Linked DNA regions of Homo sapiens. The protein of the gene in region 2 interacts with the protein of the main gene of each other region in a pairwise test. Each region holds a gene or a part of one and is shown on either strand. Other genes may lie near its edges.

Region 1 (10,191 bases), on a different chromosome or scaffold from region 2:
TCCCAAAGTGTTGGGATTACAGGCGTGAGCCGCCGTGCTGGGCCAGGTCTTTGGACTTGATTTGGAACTACATCACCGGCTTTCCCGCACCTCTGGCTTGCAGAAGGCAGATTGCAGGACTTCCCAGCCTCCATAATCGTATGTGCCAATCCCTCATAATACATCTATTTCTTTTGTTTTTGTTTTTGTTTTTTTTGAGACGGAGTCTCGCTCTTTCGCCCAGGCCGGAGTGCAGTGACGCTATCTCGGCTCACTGCATGCTCCGCCTCCCGGGCTCATGCCATTTTCCTGCCTCAGCCTCCCGAGTAGCTGGGACTACAGGTGCCTGTCACAGCACCTGGCTGACTTTTTGTATTTTTAGTAGAGACGGGGTTTCACCGTATTAGCCAGGATGGTCTCGATCTCCTGACCTCGTGATCCGCCTGCCTCGGCCTCCCAAAGTGCTGGAATTACAGGCGTGAGCCACCGCGCCTGGCCTTTGTTTTTGTTTTTAAGTAGAGATGGGGTCTCGCTTTGTTGCCCAGGCTGGTGTCGAACTCCTAGGCTCAAGCAATCCTCCCACTTCATCCTCCCAAAGTGCTGGGATTACAGGTATGAGTCATCGTGCCCAGCCAATACATCTCTTTCTATATATCTAAACATATGCTGTTGATTCTGTTTCTCTGAAGAACTCCGATTAATACATCTCCTCTTTTATTCCCTTCCCTGAGCTCCTTTAAAGAACTTATCACTACTAGAAATTATCCTGCGCCCGGGCGCGGTGGCTCATGCTGTAATCCCAGCACTTTGTGAGGCTGAGGTGGGTGGATCACTTGAGGTCAGGAGTTCGATACCAGCCTGGCCAACATGGTGAAACCCCCATCTCTATTAAAAATACAAAAAATTAGGCAGGCGTGGTCATGTGTGACTGTAACCACAGCTACTCGGGAGGCTGAGGCAGGAGAATCGCTGGAACCCAGGAGGCGGAGGTTGCAGTGAGCTAAGATTGCACCACTGCACTCCAGCCTGGGAGATAGAGCGAGACTCTGTCTGTCTCCAAAAAAAAAGAAAAAAAAAAAAAAGAAATTATCCTGCTTACTGACTTATTTGTTTACTATCTGTTTCCTGTGATAAGAATGAGGAAAAGGGCCTTGTCTGTCTTCTTTCTTGCTGTTACTCTGGCTTGGTGCCAGGTATAAACATCGTGCTAAAAAATGTTTGTTCACTGACTGACTGACTGGTCAGGGCCTTGGGAGATACTCACGGCGAATGGCCCTCAGCCGGGGGATGATGCTGGGGCTTGCAGGGGGGCTGGCCCCATCGGATCCTTTCCGCTTATCCAGAGTTGGAGAGGCCTGGACTGTGATCTTATGCTCAAAGCCTGCAGAAAGAAAGAGAAGCTTTCCTAAGCAAATGGTTCCAGGGATTACCAAAGGGAATTTTCTTCTGTAGAAGTAGAGAAGGAATTCTAGAATGGGAACACCGCCATTTTTCATTCCTTAATGCAGTGGTTCTCAGAGTGTGGGCCCCAGAACAGCAGCATCACCATCAGCTGAAAATTTCTTGGCAATGCAAATTCTTGGGCCCTCCCTGAATCAGCAAGTTGGGGTGAGGCTCAGCAATGGACTGTGGTTTAATAAGTACAAGCACAAGAGCTCTTGTGGATCAAGGACCTAGGCCTCAGTGTCCAATATGGCCGCCAGTAGCTACGTGTAGCAGCTGAGCACCTTGAAATGTGGCTTGTGCAATGGGGGAATTGGAGTTTAACCTTTATTTATCTAATTTTTAAACTGTATATATATATATATATAAAGGATGAGTTCTCACTGTGGTGACCAGGCTGGTCTTGAACTCTTGGCCTCGAGCAATCCTCCAGCATCCGCCTCCCAAAGTGCTGGGATTACAGGTGTGAGCCACCATGCCCAGCCAACTCTTTATTTTATTGTAATTACCGCAATTTGAGTTTAAATTTTAAAAACAGGTATGGGGGCTGGGCGCGGTGGCTCATGTCTGTAATCCCAGCACTTTGGGAGGCCGAGGCAGGCGGATCACGAGGTCAGGAGATTGAGACCATCCTGGCTAACACGGTGAAACCCTGTCTCTACTAAAAATACAAAAAAAAAAAAAAAAAAAAAAAAGAAAGAAAGAGCCAGGCGTGGTGGCGGGTGCCTGTAGTCCCAGCTATTCAGGAGGCTGAGGCAGGAGAATGGCATGAACCTGGGAGGCAGAGCTTGCAGTGAGCCGAGATCATGCCACTGCACTCCAGCCTGGGTGACAGAGCGAGGCTCCATCTCAAAAAAAACAAAAACAAAAACAAAAAAACAAACAACAAAAAACAGGTACTCCATTTGGTTATTGGAAACATTTAAGCATGTTTGGAGCAACTTGGGTATGTATATGTACTTTTTCAACTCTAACTTTTATGAAATCTAAATACAGATCCAATATTTTTGATGGGTCAGGTACAGTAGCTCACACCTGTAATCCCAGCACTTTGGGAGGCCAAAGTGGGAGCGCTGCCTGAGCGCAGGAGTTCAAGACCACCCTGGGCAATATAGCAAGACCCCATCTCAGAAAAAAAAAAATTTTTAATGAAAATTTACTGTCCAAATTTAGATGTGCCATAAATATAAAATACATCTGGATTTCAAAGATTTAGTGTGAAAAAAGAAGGTAAAATATCTCACAATTATTTTGTATTGATTGCATGGATATATTGGGCTAAATTAAAAAATATATATATTTTTTGAGATGGAGTTTTGCTCTTGTCGCCCAGGCTGGAGTACAATGGCGCGATCTCGGCTCACTGCAACCTCTGCCTCCCAGGTTCAAGCGATTCTCCTGCCTCAGCCTCCTGAGTAGCTGGGATTACAGGCATGCGCCACCACGCCCGGCTAATTTTGTAGTTTTAGTAGAGATGGGGTTTCTCCATGTTGGTCAGGCTGGTCTCAAACTCCTGACCTCAGGTGATCTGCCCGTCTTAGCCCCAAAAAGTGCTGGGATTACAGACGTGAGCCACCCCACCTGGCCTAATAAAAAATATTAAAATTGACATCTCTTATTTCTTTTTGCTTTTATGTGTAGCTTACTAGAAAATTTAAAATTATACACGTGGCTTGTATTATATTTCCACTGGCCACTGCTGCTTAAGGCACTGCTTTCTGGCTTGTAACATCACAGAAAGAGACAAGTAGACACTACGTGCCTCCCTCCTGAATGCATTACCTGGGAAGCAGTGTGGGGAAAAAAAAAATCAAACCTGAATCTGAATCTGATTAAGTCTTGAGATCCAACTATTAGGTTGATCCATGTGAAACTTCTGTTTTTGTAGGTAAAAAAATGGTCAAATATCAGCATATATATGTATATCTTAATTATATATTTTGTGACAGAGTCTCACTCTGTCACCCAGGCTGGAGTGCAGTGGCACAATCTCGGCTCACTGCAACCTCTGCTTTCCGGGTTCAAGCGATGCTTGTGCCTCAGCCTCCCAAGTAACTGAGATTACAGGCGTGTGCACCACCACACCCAGCTAATTTTGTAGTTTTAGTAGAGGCGGGATTTCACCATGTTCTAGAGCCAGGCTGCTCTAGAACTCCTAGCCTCAAGTGATCTACGCACTTTGGCCTCCCAAAATGCTGGGATTACAGGCGTGAGCCACTGCACCTGGCCAGATTAAAAGATATTTTTAAAGAGAGATAACATGAAAAAGAAAGTTCAGAAGTGACTGTCCTAAGTGTCAAGACAGATGTTCCTCTCAGGGGATGGTGTGAGGTTGTCTGGAGGGGCAGGTAGAAAGCACTTGGGATGGCTGTGAGGTTCTCTCTGCTTTCATGGGGGTGACTAGAGTAACTCATTTGGCTGTACAGGTTTTTGGTCATTTTCTTTTTTTCTTCTTCTTCCCTTTAGAGATAGGGTCTTGCTCTGCTGCCCAGACTGGAGTGCAGTGGTGCAATTACAGCTCACTGCAGCCTCGAACTCCTGGACTCAAGTGATCCTCCCACCTCAGCCTCCCCACTAGCTTGGACTATAAGTGCATGCCAACGTGGCCAGCTAATTAAAAAAAATTTTTTTTTTTTTTGGTAAATATGGGGTCTATGTTGCCCAGGCTGGTCTCAAACTTCTGGCCTCAAGTGATCCTCCCACCTTGGCCTCCTGAGTAGGCTGGGACTACAAGTGCTCGCCACTGCACTGGGCTGATCACTGACTATGTGCGATATATTTAGCAATAAAAACAAGTTGAAAAAGAAAAGGAAGAGATAAATCCTAGGTCGGGGCTGCTCCCAGCAGCCTCTTGGGGGGCGCTCTGGGGACACGGGTGGGTACCAGAGGGCAGGCTGATGTGGCTGCCGCCTTCCCGCAGCTTGAGCAGGCGGCTGCGCTTGAAGTTGCCCTTGCGCTTGCGGACCCGGGGCTTCTCCTGGCTCAGCTGGCACATGAGCAGGTGCAGCTCCCGTTCCACGATGTCCATCTCACGTTCTGCCAGCTCCTGCTCCCGCCGCCGCAGCTGCTCCTCCTGGAAGCGCTGCTCCTGTGCCGCCCGCAGCAGCTCCTCCTCACGGCTCCGAAGCTCCTGGGAAGGAGAGGCGGTGGCTGGGGGGAGGGGCTTAGCTGCTCTGCTTCCTGGGGAGGGACCCAGGGCTGCTGCGTCTGGTTGGTGCCTCACACAAGGGTACCTTGCTGTGGGGTACACTGGTTTCACCACCCGACTCATGCTTTGCTAGCCAAGCTGGGTGCCAGGGCAGGGAACTGTGTTAGCTCAAAGAAAGGGGTGCTTTTTCTTTCTTTTTCTTTCTTAACTCTTCAATTTAGAAAACTTCAAACATCCACAAAAGCAGAGAACAGTGCACCCCCCTGTACCCATCATCCAATTTCAACAATTACCTATGCTTTGCGAATCTTGTATCCCCGTCCTTCTCTCCTCTTGCCCTCTCTTCGTTTCTGCTGTAGTATTTTAAAGCCAACCCCAGACATCATGCAGTGTCACCTGTAAGTACTTCAGTACAGGGTGCCTTTTTCTTATTAATCCACCAACAGGAGGCTGTCTTTTCTTAATATGCAAAAAAGGCTCCCTTGACCCTGCATGGACCCAAAGGCTGGGGTTCAGGGGAGGAGTCTCTGAGCAGCCCAAGGCATCAGAACTCAGGGGTCTTGCTCCATCTTTCCCACCTTGCCCCCTGCCTTCACCTTCTCCTTGGTCCGAAGGTCATCAAACATGTGCTGAATCTCCAGCTTCCAGTCTTCCTGCAGCGAGTGGAAGGACTCCAGTGGCATCTGGAACAGGGCTGACTGTTCGATGACTTCAAGCCGCTTCAAGATGCTACCGAAATCTGGCCGCCCGTGGGGGTCTGGGTCCCAGCATTCTGGGGTGGGAGGAGGAAGGACAGTGGTGGGGCATGGAGGTGTCAGTGGTCATGCTCTGGGGACTCAGCCTGCTCAGAGGAAGGCAGAATTTCTGGGGATGGCAGACAAACAGCTGCTATGGAGCTGAGGGGAAGGGATTCAAAGCCAAGCTCCTGGCCAATTCCACTCAGTGAAACGCTGGGAGAGAAACCCTGGGACCTGCACCCCGAGGAGGGGCTGGTAGTGGAATCAGGATCAAGGTGGAATCCCAGGGCCAAGGAATCCTAACAGGTTGTCCTGAGAGCTCTGGGCCTGGCCCAAACAAGGGCTGGGATGTGGGGGATGGAGCCAACCATGGGGAGGCTGTTTAGAGTCCAGTGGGTTCCAGCCCCTTCTTCCTCACTCCTGGGCCCACTGGTATGGATAGGTGTGAAGGGGAAAGGTCTGGGCCCACAGGTCCCTGCCACTCCAAGCTGAGCCTACCCTCGTCACGGGGCCCCGGCTCACCCTCCAGGAGGCGGGCAAAGGGCTCGGGGCACGTGGAGGGAATGGGCAGCGTCAGCTTATTCATAGCCACGCCATACGCCACGGCCAAGGCGTCGATCTCACGGTAGGGGACCTCCCCCGTCAGCAGCTCCCACAGCAGCACCCCGAAGCTGCAGGCAGGGGAGAGGGAGGGGTGATGTCGCAGCCCACCCCAATCCTCACCTATACCCAGCCCTGCCCTTGGTCCCATGCAGGGCTGCCCTCACCCCAACAGCCACCCCCGGCCAATGAGGTCACAAGAACTTGCTTTGACCTCCATGGCCTTGTTCTCCAATAGATGGGGTGGGTTTGGCTCTCTGATGTCTCTCCTTTGCTCGGCCTGTCTTCCCTCTCCCCTGCCTGAAAATCTTCAGGTCCCGTGTTCCTACTGGCCAAATCCATCTTTCTTATTTTTATTTTTGTAGAGATGGAGGTCTCACTATGTTGCCCAGGCTGGTCTCAAACTCCTGGGCTCAAGTGATCCTCCTGCCTGGGCTTCCCAAAGTGCTGGGATTACAGGCATGAGCCACTGCATCCCACCTAAATCCATCCTTCTTGGCCCTGGCCTTTGATGACCCCTGCAGCCTCACTTCCAAACACTCTCAGCCCATTCTAACCCCAACTTCATCTTGCAGCCACACTGAATACTGAGCAGGCCCTGTGCTTTCTAACCTCTGGCCTTCACACATGCTGTTCCCTTTGTGGAGAACACTCTTCCCTTGTGTAACTATTTGTCCCTCAAGTCTCAACACAGGTTGCCCCCTCTGTCAGGAAGCCTTCCTTGATTCCACAGCCTCCAAAGCTAGGTTAGAGGCCCCTCCTCTACGTTTCCCCAAAACACTCAGCACTTACCTCTAAAAACCAGTTAACATTATTTAACATTTATAAAGCACTTACTGCAGGCCAGGCACTGTGCTAGGCACTCGGTAATCCTCACAACAGCCCTGTAAGGCAGAAGGATTTGGTATGACCCCTGCTTTAGCTGATGAGCAGGTACACGCTCAGAGAGGTAAGGGGCTTGCCCAAGGTCACACAGCTAGTGAGTGGTGGAGCCACACTTGGACTCAGGTCTGCCTGCTGCCCACGACAGTGCTCTCAGTGGCTCCATGGTACCAGAGCGTGCGTCACTGTGCTGTGGTCCCTGCAAGGCTATCTTCCTCTGCAAACTCTACATCCTCCCAGATCCTGATGGCCATTCTGTGTGGTGTTTATCCTGGAGTAGATCCCTGGTCTCCCCACTATCCACTCATGCATTCATTCAACATATCCTTTTTTTTTTTTGAGACAAAGTCTCTGTCACCCAGGCTGGAGTGCAGTGGCATGATCTCGGCTCCCTGCAACCTCCGCCTCTTGGGTTCAAGTGATTCTTGTGCCTCAGCCTCCCAAGTAGCTGGGATTACAGATGTGCACCACCATCCCAGCTAATTTGTGTATTTTTAGTAGAGATGGGGTTTCACCATGTTGGCCAGGCTGGTCTCCAACTCCTGACCTCAGGTTCCGCCTGCCTCAGCCTCCCAAAGTGCTGGGATTACAGGCATGAGCCACTGCGCCCGGCCCATTCAACGTATACTTATTAAGTGCCTACTGTGTGCCAAGCACCATTTTAGACATTGGGAAGAGATAGACACAATCACTGCCCCCATATGCAGCTGACAGCCTCCCATTCTTCAGTGACAGTGCTGGTGAATTGAGCTGGCCACATGCTGCCTGCATGAATTTTCCATTCTCCTTTGCAGCTAAGCATGCCACATGACCACAGTTCTGGTACATGGGATGTAGGAGGGGGTGTAGTAGGCAACTAGCTTCCAGGAAGTATCCTCAAAAAGAAGGGGTGCCCGGCCGGGAAAGAGTGTGAGGTGGGATGATGGCTTGAGCCCAAGAGTTCAAGGCTGCAGTGAGCTATGACTATACCACCACATTCTAGCCTGCGTGGGAGAGTGAGAGCCTGTCTTTTAAAAATTTTTTTAAATGAAAAATAAATTTATAGTGGGTTAATTTTATATTATTTATATCTTAAATAAGATGAAATCTGTCCCCAAACACCCTATCCTGTAAAGACTATTGTTCAAAGAAGGAACAGAATGGACCCCAAAATAAGAGGTGAAAATCCCCACATACACTCTAGTCATGCCAAGGGCAGCCTGACAGGCAAGGCTTCTTGCTTCCTGTCTCAACTTATCCCTGTCCTGCGAAGCCGCGGCAGGACACATCTGCAGCTCAGCACAGCAGACAGGCACAGGAGCGCAGGAACAAAAACAACATGGGTAAGAAAATGAGGCCGGGCGCGGTGGCTCACGCCTGTAATCCCAGCACTTTGGGAGGCCGAGGCGGGCGGATCACAAGGTCAGGAGATTGAGACCATCCTGGCTAGCACGGTGAAACCCCGTCTCTACTAAAAATACAAAAAATTAGTCAGGCGTGGTGGCGGGCGCCTGTAGTCCCAGCTACTCGGGAGGCTGAGGCAGGAGAATGGCGTGAACCCAGGAGGCGGAGCTTGCAGTGAGCTGAGATCGTGCCACTGAACTCCAGCCTGGAAGACAGAGTGAGACTACGTCTCAAAAAATAAAAAGAAGGGGTGCCATTTTCCTTTTTTCCCCTTCTTGTGGTTGGAATGTAGACATAAAACCTGGAGCCTGGGGGGTGGGGGACAAGGGGAGGGAGAGCATTAGGCAAATACCTGACACACGCGGGGCTTCAAACCTAGATGATGGGTTGATGGGTGCAGCAAACTACCATGGCACATGTATACCTATGTAACAAACCCTGCACGTTCTGCACATGTATCCCAGAACTTAAAATTAAAAAAAAAAAAAAAAAAAAAGCTGGCGTGTGGAGCTAGGCACAGTGGCTCACGCCTGTAATGTCAGCACTTTGGGAGGCCAAGACAAGAGGACCTCTTGAGCCCAAGAGATCGAGACCAGCGTAGGAAACAAAGTGAGACCTCGTCTCTACAAAAAATTAGCCTGGTGTGGTGGCATGCCTGTAGTCCCAGCTACTAGAGAGGCTGAGGTGGGAGGATCACTTGAGCCCAGGAGGTTGAGGCTGCAATGATTTGTGACGGCATCACTGCACTCCAGCCTGGGTGACAGAGCAAGACCCTGTTAAAAAAAAAAAAAAAAAAAAGGCTGGGTGCGGTGGCTGACGCCTGTAATCCCAGCACTTTAGGAGGCCCAGGTGGGCAGATCATGAGGTCAAGAGATCAAGGCTGTCCTGGCCAATATGGTGAAACCCCGTCTCTACTGAAAAATTAAAAAAAATAAATAAATAATACAAAAATTAGCTGGGCCTGGTGGCATGTGCCTGTAGTCCCAGCTACTTGGGAGGCTGAGGCAGGATAATTGCTTGAACCCAGGAGGCAGAGGTTTCAGTGAGCCAAGATCGCGCCGCTGTACTCCGGCCTGGGCGACAGAGCAAGACTCCAGCTCAAAAAAAAAAAAAAAACAAAAAACGCTGGAGCTCAAGCAGTCATTTTGGATCATGAAGTAAACTTCAGAATGGAGACCATACAAGGTGGGGGAGAAACAGTGGTTTATAACTGGAGGGTAGCATGATCCACCCCTCTCTCCCATGTCCTTGGAAACCTATGGGGTTACTGTGATTGTAATAATGACTGAGAATGTTACTGAAGTTTATGGCGGGGAGGTGTGGATATCCTGCATCCTGCTAAGTACAGGACAGGACCACATCAGAAAGAATTAGCCTGCCCGGCCGGGTGCAGTGACTCATGCCTGTAATCCCAGCACTCTAGGAGGCTGAGGCGGGCGGATCACCTGAGGTCAGGACTTCAAGACCAGCCTAGCCAACATGGTGAAACCCTGTCTCCACTAAAAATATAAAAATTAGCCAGTGCATGCCTATAATCTCAGCTACTCGGGAGGCTGAGGCACAAGAATCACTTGAATCTGGGAGGAGGAGGGTGCAGTGAGCTGAGATTGTGCCATTGCACTCCAGCCTGGGCGGCAGAGTGAGACTCTGTCCCAAAAAAAAAAAAAAAAAAAAAAAAGGTAGCACAAATGAACGCCTGATGTACAGCCAGTTGGAAATTCTCCCAAAGGGCTGCTCTGCTCTAGGCTGAGCTGGAGACTTCCTGTCTGATCTGTCTCAGTCCCATACCCATTAATTTGCTGCTTGGACAATCTGGAGCCTCAGCTGGGAATTGACGGGAACAGTAAATGGGGAGACCCAGGTTTGGCTCCAACCAAGCAGAAGGTCCTGGGTTGAAAGTCTCCATGGCCACCATCAACTCTCACTGGTGACAGCAACAGACCCATCATTGGCTGTCTCTACCTAACAGTCAAAGGAGCTTTTATTTTTAAGTATTTTTTTTCAGATGGAGTCTTGCTC
Region 2 (10,191 bases):
TGCTTTTGCAATTGAGATAATGTAAAGAGAGCTAGTAAGCTGTATAAAAGAATAATTCTTATGCTTATTTTTTAGGTTTCATGACACATTTCTAATCCTGCTCAGAATAAGGGACACGTAACATCAAATCTTGTATTTCTAAAAGTACAAATTATATTTGAAGTACACCAGTGCCCATTATAACATGTCGTACAATTACAAATTTTTTACACTTTGGTGTCCTATTCTTAGTGGTAGCTTAAGATTAAAGGCTCCCAAATAAAGAAAAACATAAAGCTTGAAGCAAGTAAAGATGAATTGAATAGTGTTTTATTTCAAATGGACATTTATCCATATTTCTGTATTACCTGATAGATTTTAAGAAAAGTTCTTTCTTTTTTTTTTTTTTTTTTTGAGACGGAGTCTTGCTCTTTTGCCTAGGCCGGAGTGCAGTGGCGCAGTCTTGGCTCACTGCAAGCTCCGCCTCCCGGGTTCACGCCATTCTCCTGCCTCAGCTTCCCGAGTAGCTAGGACTACAGGTGCCCGCCACCACTCCTGGCTAATTTTTGTATTTTTAGTAGAGACGGGGTTTCACCGTGTTAGCCAGGATGGTCCCGATCTCCTGACCTCATGATCTGCCCGCCTCGGCCTCCCAAAGTGCTGGGATTATAGGCGTGAGCCACTGCGCCCGGCTGATTTTAAGAGATTTTCTAAGGTATGATTAGAGAATGCAGAATCACGTGGATTTTATGCAGGATCCATCTAGACTTATTTCAAACTTAAAGGCTTTTGTTAAAACAATTTAATTAAGTTGAAAAGTGTTATTTAATTTAATTTATTTATATTTTATTTTCAGAAGAAAGGGGAGTAGTGTTGCTTTCTTGTACCAGCCTGCAGCTTACTGTCTTTTAAAGCATTATCTATATACTTACCCTTTCAAAACTAATGACAAAAATAATTGCTTATTGTTCTTATGCTTTTAGCTTTCTAGAAGAATAATTCCAAGAATATTAGAAATCTCCTTCTCTATTGACAATTTGTAGGCAAGTTACCAAAACAATTCATTTCAAAGGATAATTTGTAAAATACTTGGAATTGCATTAGAAACCACATAGAGGTATTACTTTGTATAATAAACTGTGAAATATGCGAAAATATTTGAGTGGGAGGCGTTGCAATTTAGTTTTCTGTTTTAAAACTTAATTCTTAAAGAGTAGTTATATGAAAGTATGTTATGAAATGAGTTGTACTTTGTTCAATTCAAGAAGTTTTAATTCCTATTTGCGTACCTAGCACATAATTTTTTTCTTGTAATGTGGGCGTGTTGGTGAAGTGGAGAGATGGTTGTCCTAGCATGTGGTTGCTGTGTGTACCTTCCCTTTTAAATATCTCAATGGCCTTTTTAAAAGGTGTTTCTTGCTTGAGTCCTTAATTGGCAGTGACTCCTGTAGAATCATTGTTTATAATTACCCTTAAAAATCTACTAATAGAAGGAATGTAAGTTTGTTACTGTACAGGTATACTTCATTTTATGTAATAATTTTATTTTCTGGAAAAAAAAAAAAGCCCTTAATCCGGTTGGGAAATCGGATGTATTGGGAGAACTTGTGTCTTTAAAAATTCTTCATTAGACCTTTCTGTTAATCAAATAATCAGTGGAAATTACTGTAATCTAATTTATCTGTTGGATTGGTTCAGGTTTTTGTGTTAGATTTTCTTAAAGTGAAGCATGCCTATAATAGATCCATATACTAAAAGAAATATTGAATTGGGACATTTTTGATATGGACAGTGTGAATTTTGTCACTTTAAATGTACTAGTTGTTAAAATTGCCTTAATTTTCTGTTTTGCCCTTTTAGATTACTTCCCAGATCTTAGCAGGTTCCTAATTCCATGTCTTCTGTTAGCATAACCACATGGTGTTGAACTGTGACCTTTGCAGGACTTGGGGAATCAGTGTGAGATCTTGAGATTGACTTGAGTTATAATCTAAGACTAAGTTAACTTTAATATTCTTGCTTAAATGACATCTCTCGTTGTGTTGAATATGCTTTCTTTTTACATGGGCTCTATTTCAGTTTTGATAACGGTTTGATTTTTATTTCTACACTTAAATGAATGCTATTATATATTTTTCTTTGTTTCACAAGAGAAATAATGTTTTCCTTTTTTTCCTCCTCATCTCTGTGCGTATTGCTTCCTGTCTGCGATTTGCTTACTACTTCTTATTGCAAGATCAAGCAGGTTGGTGTGATTGATTTGCACTCCACATGGTACAATTATTTATCCTATAAAGAACTATGTTATTTAAATACATTAAATTTTTAAAATTTAGTAGTTTTTTTACCAGGTAAGTATCTATCTTTTGTATTTTTAACAATCTTTCAACTTTAGCTTTTAAAAAGAACTTCATTTTTTTCCCTAAATTCTTAAAGACTCATTAAGCCAAAGTTTGGAAATACAAGTGTAAATTATTTCACATTCAAACATTTTTCTCCTTTTTTCTTAAAGCCAAGAATCAAATACCTGGTTATGCCGTGGTTGCTTATGTAATAAAAATGAAATTAATTCAATTAGGACTGCCCTGAAGTTCTTCCCCTTTGACTTACCCTGGCCGGTTAACGTTCACAATATTGGTTAGAGCACATGGCAAAGGGCAATAAAAAAATGTTGCTACTTATGTCTGGTTTAGTTAAATACTGTTTATGGCATTAACTTTTAAAAATATTTATTTACCTGAAATTTTGTGCTGAATTTTATCATGCATTGTTAGAAATAGATTTCTTTTTTGTTTGATTGGTTTAAGAAGGTTTTTTTAAAAAAAAGTCCTTTGAAAAATACATATAAAAGTGACTTTTACTGATGTCACATTTTTAAATACCTGGTTAGGAGAGTTAGCACATATTCACATTTAGCTTAAAATATTATTTGTGGAGAAATATAATGATTTGTCAGAGTGATTCTGGCTAAAGTAATATGTTACTTAAATATTAGGCTTTTGAAACTAACCCTGGCTATATATCTTTGATTGTCTTCATGAAAGTGTTACAAGACCACAATAAGATTTTTGCTGCTAAAGTATCAGTTTGGAAACATACCTGAATGGTTTTAAATTACTAATGTAATGCATTAATGCATGAACAGTTATGTGTCTTTGTATTTCCACATGTAAAATCTTTTTATTTAAAAAACTTTTTATTTTACTGCTTCTTAATGGGTTTTGAAACTGTTTTTAACTATTGAAACAATTAGAACCCTTGAAGCCTGTACATACTACTGTTCATATGTTGATTAGATCATTTCCTCTATACTGTTAGCATCAGTGTCTTCATGCATTTATTATTTTTGTCTTAACATATGTCCCATTTTGTCTTTAAATATTTATAATTCTCAGGTGGAAAGGAAGTTACACTTTTTTAAATGCGTATACTTACTATATACCTGAACTGATACTTTTCTCCTTCAAATTTCTAAGACATAGTATGACTGATGGGATAAGTAGTTTGGGAATAGTAGTTAAATTATTTTAAAGTTATTTTTTAACAGCTAATTCAAAAGATTCAATACAGATGACTGTGCCAAACAAGCCAGTAAATAGAATCAGTCTACATCCTGACTTTTGGAATGCAATGAATCACACCACACCAAAGCATGAATTTGGATCAGTGCTTTTATTTACTCTTTTATTTCATTTGTCTTGTGTCTTAGGTTTGCTCTGGACTTACAGTTCTATACAAATAATGTATTTTAAACCCTAGAGTTTTTTACATAATTTTGTCATAAAGAGTTAAAGCCTATTAATGATTCTTCATTTCATAGTTCCTGAAAAAATATACTCAGTTATATATCTCCATCATAATTATTTTTCAGTTCTTTTTCCTTGTTAGGTGGTGGGGGTTAGCTTTTGGGTGGAGACATTAACAATTTATACACTCTTATGATTTACACTCTTCTTCTGTAGTTCTTTGGGAAGGAAGTTAAGAATGACGGAAAGGTTCTAGGAGAGCCTCAGACCAATTCTGTGAAAAGTGTTATTGGTTTTCTGAAGGAATGTATGTTTCTAAGAAACTGTATGACCAGAAATGAATTGTCTTTGATTCAGTTTCATCACCAGTTTAATAAGCTAGTTTTATTTTCTCTTTTTCATTTGGATTTTGTTATTTTGAAATTCATTAATAAACTTTCTTTGAGCACCTATTACATGTATGTAAAATACTTTATTAGACATTATTAGCAAAAATAATCAATTGGAAGCCATATTCCAGCTTTATTATTTGGTAGTATTTCTACTTATATTTGACACTTGGCATGTTTACTCTGACTTAGGGAGCCTTCGGGTCCTGAGTTTGACATAATAACAAGCTATTTTAGTTGTTCCTTTAGTGTATGATGATATATCTTGACAGCTCAGCAACTGTGAAATGCTTGGTTAATTACTGTGTATGTAACTGTTACATAATTACATAGTATAGAATTTTTTCCTTTAAAAGTATGCTGTGAAATAAAATACTTTAATGTTATTAAACAAAAATTTTAGAAAAACTCTGAAAAATATATTAAAACTACTTGATGTAAATTCTGCCTGATATTTTCATCTGTGCATTTTATACCTATATATGACTTTTATTCACTTGTTTTATGTGAACTTGGGGAAGATATTTTAAGGAGTCGCTTGATTTTATACTTGGTTATCAGGAAAAAGTAACTGAAGAATCATGTTGCTTTTTTTTTAACCTATATTTGTTATCTGGGGACATATATATTTTTTAATTTGGCTTTCCTGTTAATCTTTCTTTTCCTATTATTTAGCTCATCTATTTTGCTTCTCTTTCGCTTTTGTTCTTAGTTATCATTGTACAATTGGACAACAGTTTGAATTTAGCAATGAGTTATAAAGTTCTAGGAGCATAATAAATGGAAATGCATGATATTATTGGTTTGATTTCCTTAAAATATTGATAATTGGTTTTGTATTATTGAGGAGTGTAGGCATTTCTATATTGAAGGAGGTAATTTATATAAGTCTGAAACATTGATTCATTTTAGTGATTGTTGCAATTAAATGATTCAAATAGGAAAAAAGAAAGTCTCCCCAGACAAGATGATTGAAATGCAAGCAAAAATTGATGAGGAGAGAAAAGCACTTGAAACAAAGCTCGACATGGAAGAAGAAGAAAGAAACAAGGCTAGAGCTGAATTAGAGAAACGGGAAAAAGATCTTCTTAAAGCCCAGTGAGTATTATTGAATTGAGATGAATTCATGATTTAAATTTCTGTTTTTTCCTAGGATATATAAAATAGGAAAATTGAATAGTAATTAAAAGCTTGGATTTTTGTCTCCAGTGTAGCTATTTTGGATAGAAGGGTCCATTGTATATAGTGTATTTCTAAAAACTAGATCTATTTTGGTTATTTTATTTCCGTGTGATAGGAAAACATATCAATGAATTAGAATGAGTTATAAATTAAGTTAGAAATCGATACTACACAGTGGTGTAATTTGGCAGAGATGTTACATAATTATATTTCTATTTTGAAATTGTATATCCAAATTTTAAATTTTGGGAAATGATATTAGTAGAATAATAGATCATCAGTGAATATAGAGTATTCTCATTCTAATCAACAGACAAGAGCATCAGTCTTTGCTGGAAAAATTATCTGCCCTGGAAAAGAAGGTAATTGTTGGTGGGGTTGACTTGTTGGCCAAAGCTGAGGAACAAGAGAAACTTCTTGAAGAATCTAACATGGAACTGGAAGAAAGGAGGAAAAGAGCAGAGCAACTTCGCAGAGAACTTGAGGAAAAAGAGGTAATGTGACTTTCTGTTTTTAGTTTGGTATTTTGCCAGAGAGATTTAACTTTTCTAGTGGAAAGCTAAATATCTATAATCGTATTGAAATTTTAAAGCATATTTATGGATTGCTTTGAAGATCAGATTTGCTAAACATTTATGTCATTTGTTAAAGAATTAGATATTTGATTTTACAAAGAAATTTATTCTGAAGTTTACTAATTTTTGTCATAGCAAGAACGCTTGGATATTGAAGAAAAATATACCAGTTTGCAAGAGGAAGCACAGGGAAAGACCAAGAAGTTAAAGAAAGTTTGGACTATGCTGATGGCTGCAAAGTCAGAGGTTGGTTCTCTTAGAAATTACCTACTAATGCAGTTCTGGATTTTTTAAAAGGGAGTTCTTTGATTAAGAATTTATAAATAATCATAATGTGAGCTTATAATTTAAAAGAAATAAAATATTTCTTTATGTGCAATTTTTAATTTTATCTATTAGTCTAAATTGTTTCTTTTCAACCTTAACAAATAGTGTAGAATAGATGCTGATAGTGTCACGCTGTTTATCATTTTTATAAAAGAACTAGGTAAGCTCTCACAAGGTTTCTTAGACAAGCATCCTATGTGAGATGGTGCTGTTTTGTAGTTAAAGTCTTGTTTGTTCATAATATTTTTATGGATTTTCTGGTAGATGGCTGATCTCCAACAAGAACATCAGAGGGAAATTGAAGGCCTACTGGAGAACATTCGGCAACTTAGCCGGGAGCTTCGACTTCAGATGCTTATTATTGATAACTTTATACCTCGGGATTATCAGGTAAAAAGGAAGTTCTCTGACCGAGATAGTCGCTTGACTGGGATTAAGGAACAAAGATTTCTAATTTAACTGATGATAAATACTTAATACTTCAGTTATTGAATGTACAATTTTTTGAACAAATGCCATCACATTTCACTTTAGTTGTTAACTTTTAATACATAATCTCTGTTTGAGTATCTAGCCTTTTAGACGAACTCAGATTCATGTATATGTGATCAGAATCAAGGTGTAGGTCCCATTCCTTCATTCAGCGCCCATTATCATACAAGTAGAATAAATGGAACCTCTGTGCTGCCTTTTTCTCCCTGCTGTGGGTGCTGATTCTTTGTGTGTGTGTGTGTATATGGTAAAATATAGATAACATGAAATTTACCATCTTAGCTATTTTAAGTGTGCAGTTCAATGGCATTTAGGACATTCACATTGTTGTGCAACCTGTACCATCATTCATCTCCAGATGGATGCTAATTCTTAGTACTAGTATAATTTTAAAATCTCAGCCTCTATTTTTTTTAATCCAAAATTTGTCTTTCCAGTGCATTTTGGTAAACTTTAACATGATTTTTTTTTTTTTTTTTTTTGTCAGGGAGACAGAGTCACTTTGTTGCCCAGGCTGGAGTGCAGTGGTGCAATCTCGGCTCCCTGCAACCTTCACTTCCCGGGTTCAAGTGATTCTCATGCCTCTGCCTCCCGAGTAGCTGGGATTACAGGCGTGTACCACCACACCCAGCTAATTTTTGTATATTTAGTAGAGATGGGGTTTAGCCATGTTGGCCAGGCTGGTCTTGAGTTCCTGAGCTCAGGTTGATCTGCCCGTTTTGGCCTCCCAAAATGATGGGATTACAGGTGTTAACCACCATGCCTGGCCAATTTTTTAAAAATCTGTTTTGAATCTCAATACAGTTTTAAGAAATTTGTCTGAAAATAAGTCTTAGTCATTTTTTTTTTTTTTGGACCTCAGGTACATGGAATTAGTCCTGGGTTCATGGTACATTCTCCTTATTGGTCCTTGGATGGCCTGCTTTTATTTAGTTATTTTGTAATGAACTCATCACCCAAAACAATATCTAGGACCCTGATAATAACTACTTCTAACCAGTTTCCCCTTCCCTTATTTCATTCCTTTGCCTCTTCCAACCCAAGGTAATCATTATCTTGATTCCCAAGTTTCTCATTCTGTTGTTTTTTCATTTTCATTTAGTTTTATTTCATCTGCATGCATTCCTAAGAAATATGTATTTTAGAATTTATAAAAAGGTTATATCAGTATATAATGTTTTGAGACTTTTATTACTCAATGTTATTAAGATTTTAGTTTTATGACTTCAATATTTTAGATGTTATTAAATATTAAAAATAGGCTATCTTTCACCCTTTTAAAAGGAAATGATTGAAAACTATGTCCATTGGAATGAAGACATAGGAGAATGGCAGCTAGTGAGTATTACCTTCATTCTTTCACGTAATAATTAAAGAGTACTTCCTATGGTCTAGAAATTGTGCTGGCTACAGTGGGGAGGAACATGGTCCAGTAGATGAATCAGATGAGAATCCAGTAGGGCAGATAAAATATTTTTCTAATTCCATGTAATTAATTGTAACATACAGATCATGGTCTGGGTGGAAATGGTCAGAGTTAGGGGCTATGTGGGACTAAGTGACCTCTGGGGCCCTTTCTGCTCTAGCATTCAAATCATGTTTTACTAGTGTAATGTTAGGATTTCTCAGTTATTTGCCTAACTCACAGTATTGATTACTAATTAAGACATTTCTCTGTCTCTCCCTTTTCTTTTTTTGAGAAATGTGTTGCTTATACAGGAAATAACATGAGGAAGCAAACCCCAGTACCTGATAAAAAGGAGAAAGATGTAAGAGTACTTAAAAAAAAACAAAACAAAACACAAAACTACTGTTGTTTCTTTATAGGAATATGAGTCATTAAATTGTATTATCAACTTGATATCTGTTAATCAGCTCTGCTGAAAAATGGGCTGATACTTTTGGGAATAAAGGCTCTAGGATGGGGTGATGAGGAGGACAGTTCTGCTTACCATCAGTCTTGATGTCAGGCTTATTCCCACCACAAGAGGGGCATGGACTCACTCTTTGGAGTCCTCTTTTCACTACCACTCTGGGTCGTAGGATTATGGGTGGAGACTAGAATGTGTCTTTCTTTCTCTTCAAAGCTAGTTCTAGTCCTAGGTCAAGAAGAAGAGGGAGCGGGCCGGGCGTGGTGGCTCACGCCTGTAATCCCAGCACTTTGGGAGGCCGAGGCGGGTGGATCACGAGGTCAGGAGATCAAGACCATCCTGGCTAACACAGTGAAACCCCGTCTCTACTAAAAAAATACAAAAAAAATTAGCCGGGCGTGGTGGCGGGTGCCTGTAGTCCCAGCTACTCAGGAGGCTGAGGCAGGAGAATGGCGTGAACCCAGGAGGTGGAGCTTGCAGTGAGCCCAGATCGCGCTACTGCACTCCAGCCTGGGCGACAGAGTGAGACTCCGTCTCAAAAAAAAAAAAAAAAGAAGAAGAAGAGGGGGCAGCTTTAAGAAAAACAGCAACAGTTTTTATGTCCAAGGAAATTTATAGTGTGTCAGGGCTTCTTACTCACCAACCTTTATTAAGTACATTTTAGATACTGGGATTAGAAGATGATGTCATTAGACATTTCTTTGGTTTTAGCTTCTGTGGGTTTGATCAAGGAGTTTATTCAGTATTTTAAATCTTCCCCCAAATCTGGCTTTAACTCTTTGCCTTAAGAGTGCTTTGTGTTTGTTTCTTTTACTTAGCCCTTTGAGGTGGACCTTTCTCACGTGTATCTTGCCTATACTGAGGAGAGTCTGCGTCAGTCTTTGATGAAACTAGAAAGACCACGAACTTCAAAGGGGAAAGCAAGGCCAAAGACAGGGAGAAGGTAAGGACTGTCCTTGAATCTGGTAAAACGAAGGCATTGAGGTATTCTAATTAGATACATGTACAGGAAGTTAAAATTTATTTAGTTAAAACATGATACATATTTTGGCTGATTTATTAAAAATCAAATTCCTGGCTGGGCACAGTGGCTCACGCCTGTAATCCCAGCATTTTGGGAGGCCGAGGCAGGTGGATCATTTGAGGTCAGGAGTTTGAGACCAGCCTGGCTAACATAGTGAAACGCTGTCTCTACTAAAAATACAAAAGTTAACCAGGCATGGTGGCGCATGCCTGTAATCCCAGCTACTGGGGAGGCTGAGGCATGAGAATCGCTTGAACCCAGGAGCCGGAGGTTGCAGTTAGCCGAGATCATGAGATCATGCCACTGAACTTCAGCCTGGGTGACAGAGCAAGACTTGGTCTCAAAAAAAAAAAAAAAAAATCAAATTCCTTATGTATTAGAATTTGAGTAAATAAAATCTGGCCAAAGAATTAAGGTCTTCCAACTTCTTAGGCTTCTGAGTAATAGAATTTATTTTTAATTCACTCTGTTATTTCCAAATGTATAATGGGTTTAATTCCTTAATTCTTAGACTAATTCTTCTTATGAAATGCTAATTAATTTGCCTGTTTGGTCTCCCAAGGTATTGTATTCAGCTGGTTAGTTTTTCTGTCAGGTGCCCCAAGA

Evidence for each region.
Region 1: the proteins of KIF3A (region 2) and MAP3K10 interact in a two-hybrid assay, tested with the Homo sapiens proteins (one study listed by BioGRID).

Annotation. Positions count from the first base shown.
Region 1 is NC_000019.10:40,200,272-40,210,462, reverse strand, and holds part of MAP3K10 (mitogen-activated protein kinase kinase kinase 10), read right to left. Parts: intron 5,979-10,191; coding exon 5,830-5,978; coding exon of another isoform or gene 5,806-5,829; intron 5,343-5,805; coding exon 5,167-5,342; intron 4,553-5,166; coding exon 4,306-4,552; intron 1,361-4,305; coding exon 1,244-1,360; intron 1-1,243. UniProt on the Homo sapiens protein: Activates the JUN N-terminal pathway.
Region 2 is NC_000005.10:132,698,484-132,708,674, reverse strand, and holds part of KIF3A (kinesin-like protein KIF3A), read left to right. Parts: intron 1-2,215; coding exon 2,216-2,224; intron 2,225-5,055; coding exon 5,056-5,212; intron 5,213-5,609; coding exon 5,610-5,790; intron 5,791-6,006; coding exon 6,007-6,117; intron 6,118-6,462; coding exon 6,463-6,588; intron 6,589-7,974; coding exon 7,975-8,028; intron 8,029-8,390; coding exon 8,391-8,459; intron 8,460-9,379; coding exon 9,380-9,504; intron 9,505-10,191. UniProt on the Homo sapiens protein: Microtubule-based anterograde translocator for membranous organelles. Plus end-directed microtubule sliding activity in vitro. Plays a role in primary cilia formation. Plays a role in centriole cohesion and subdistal appendage organization and function.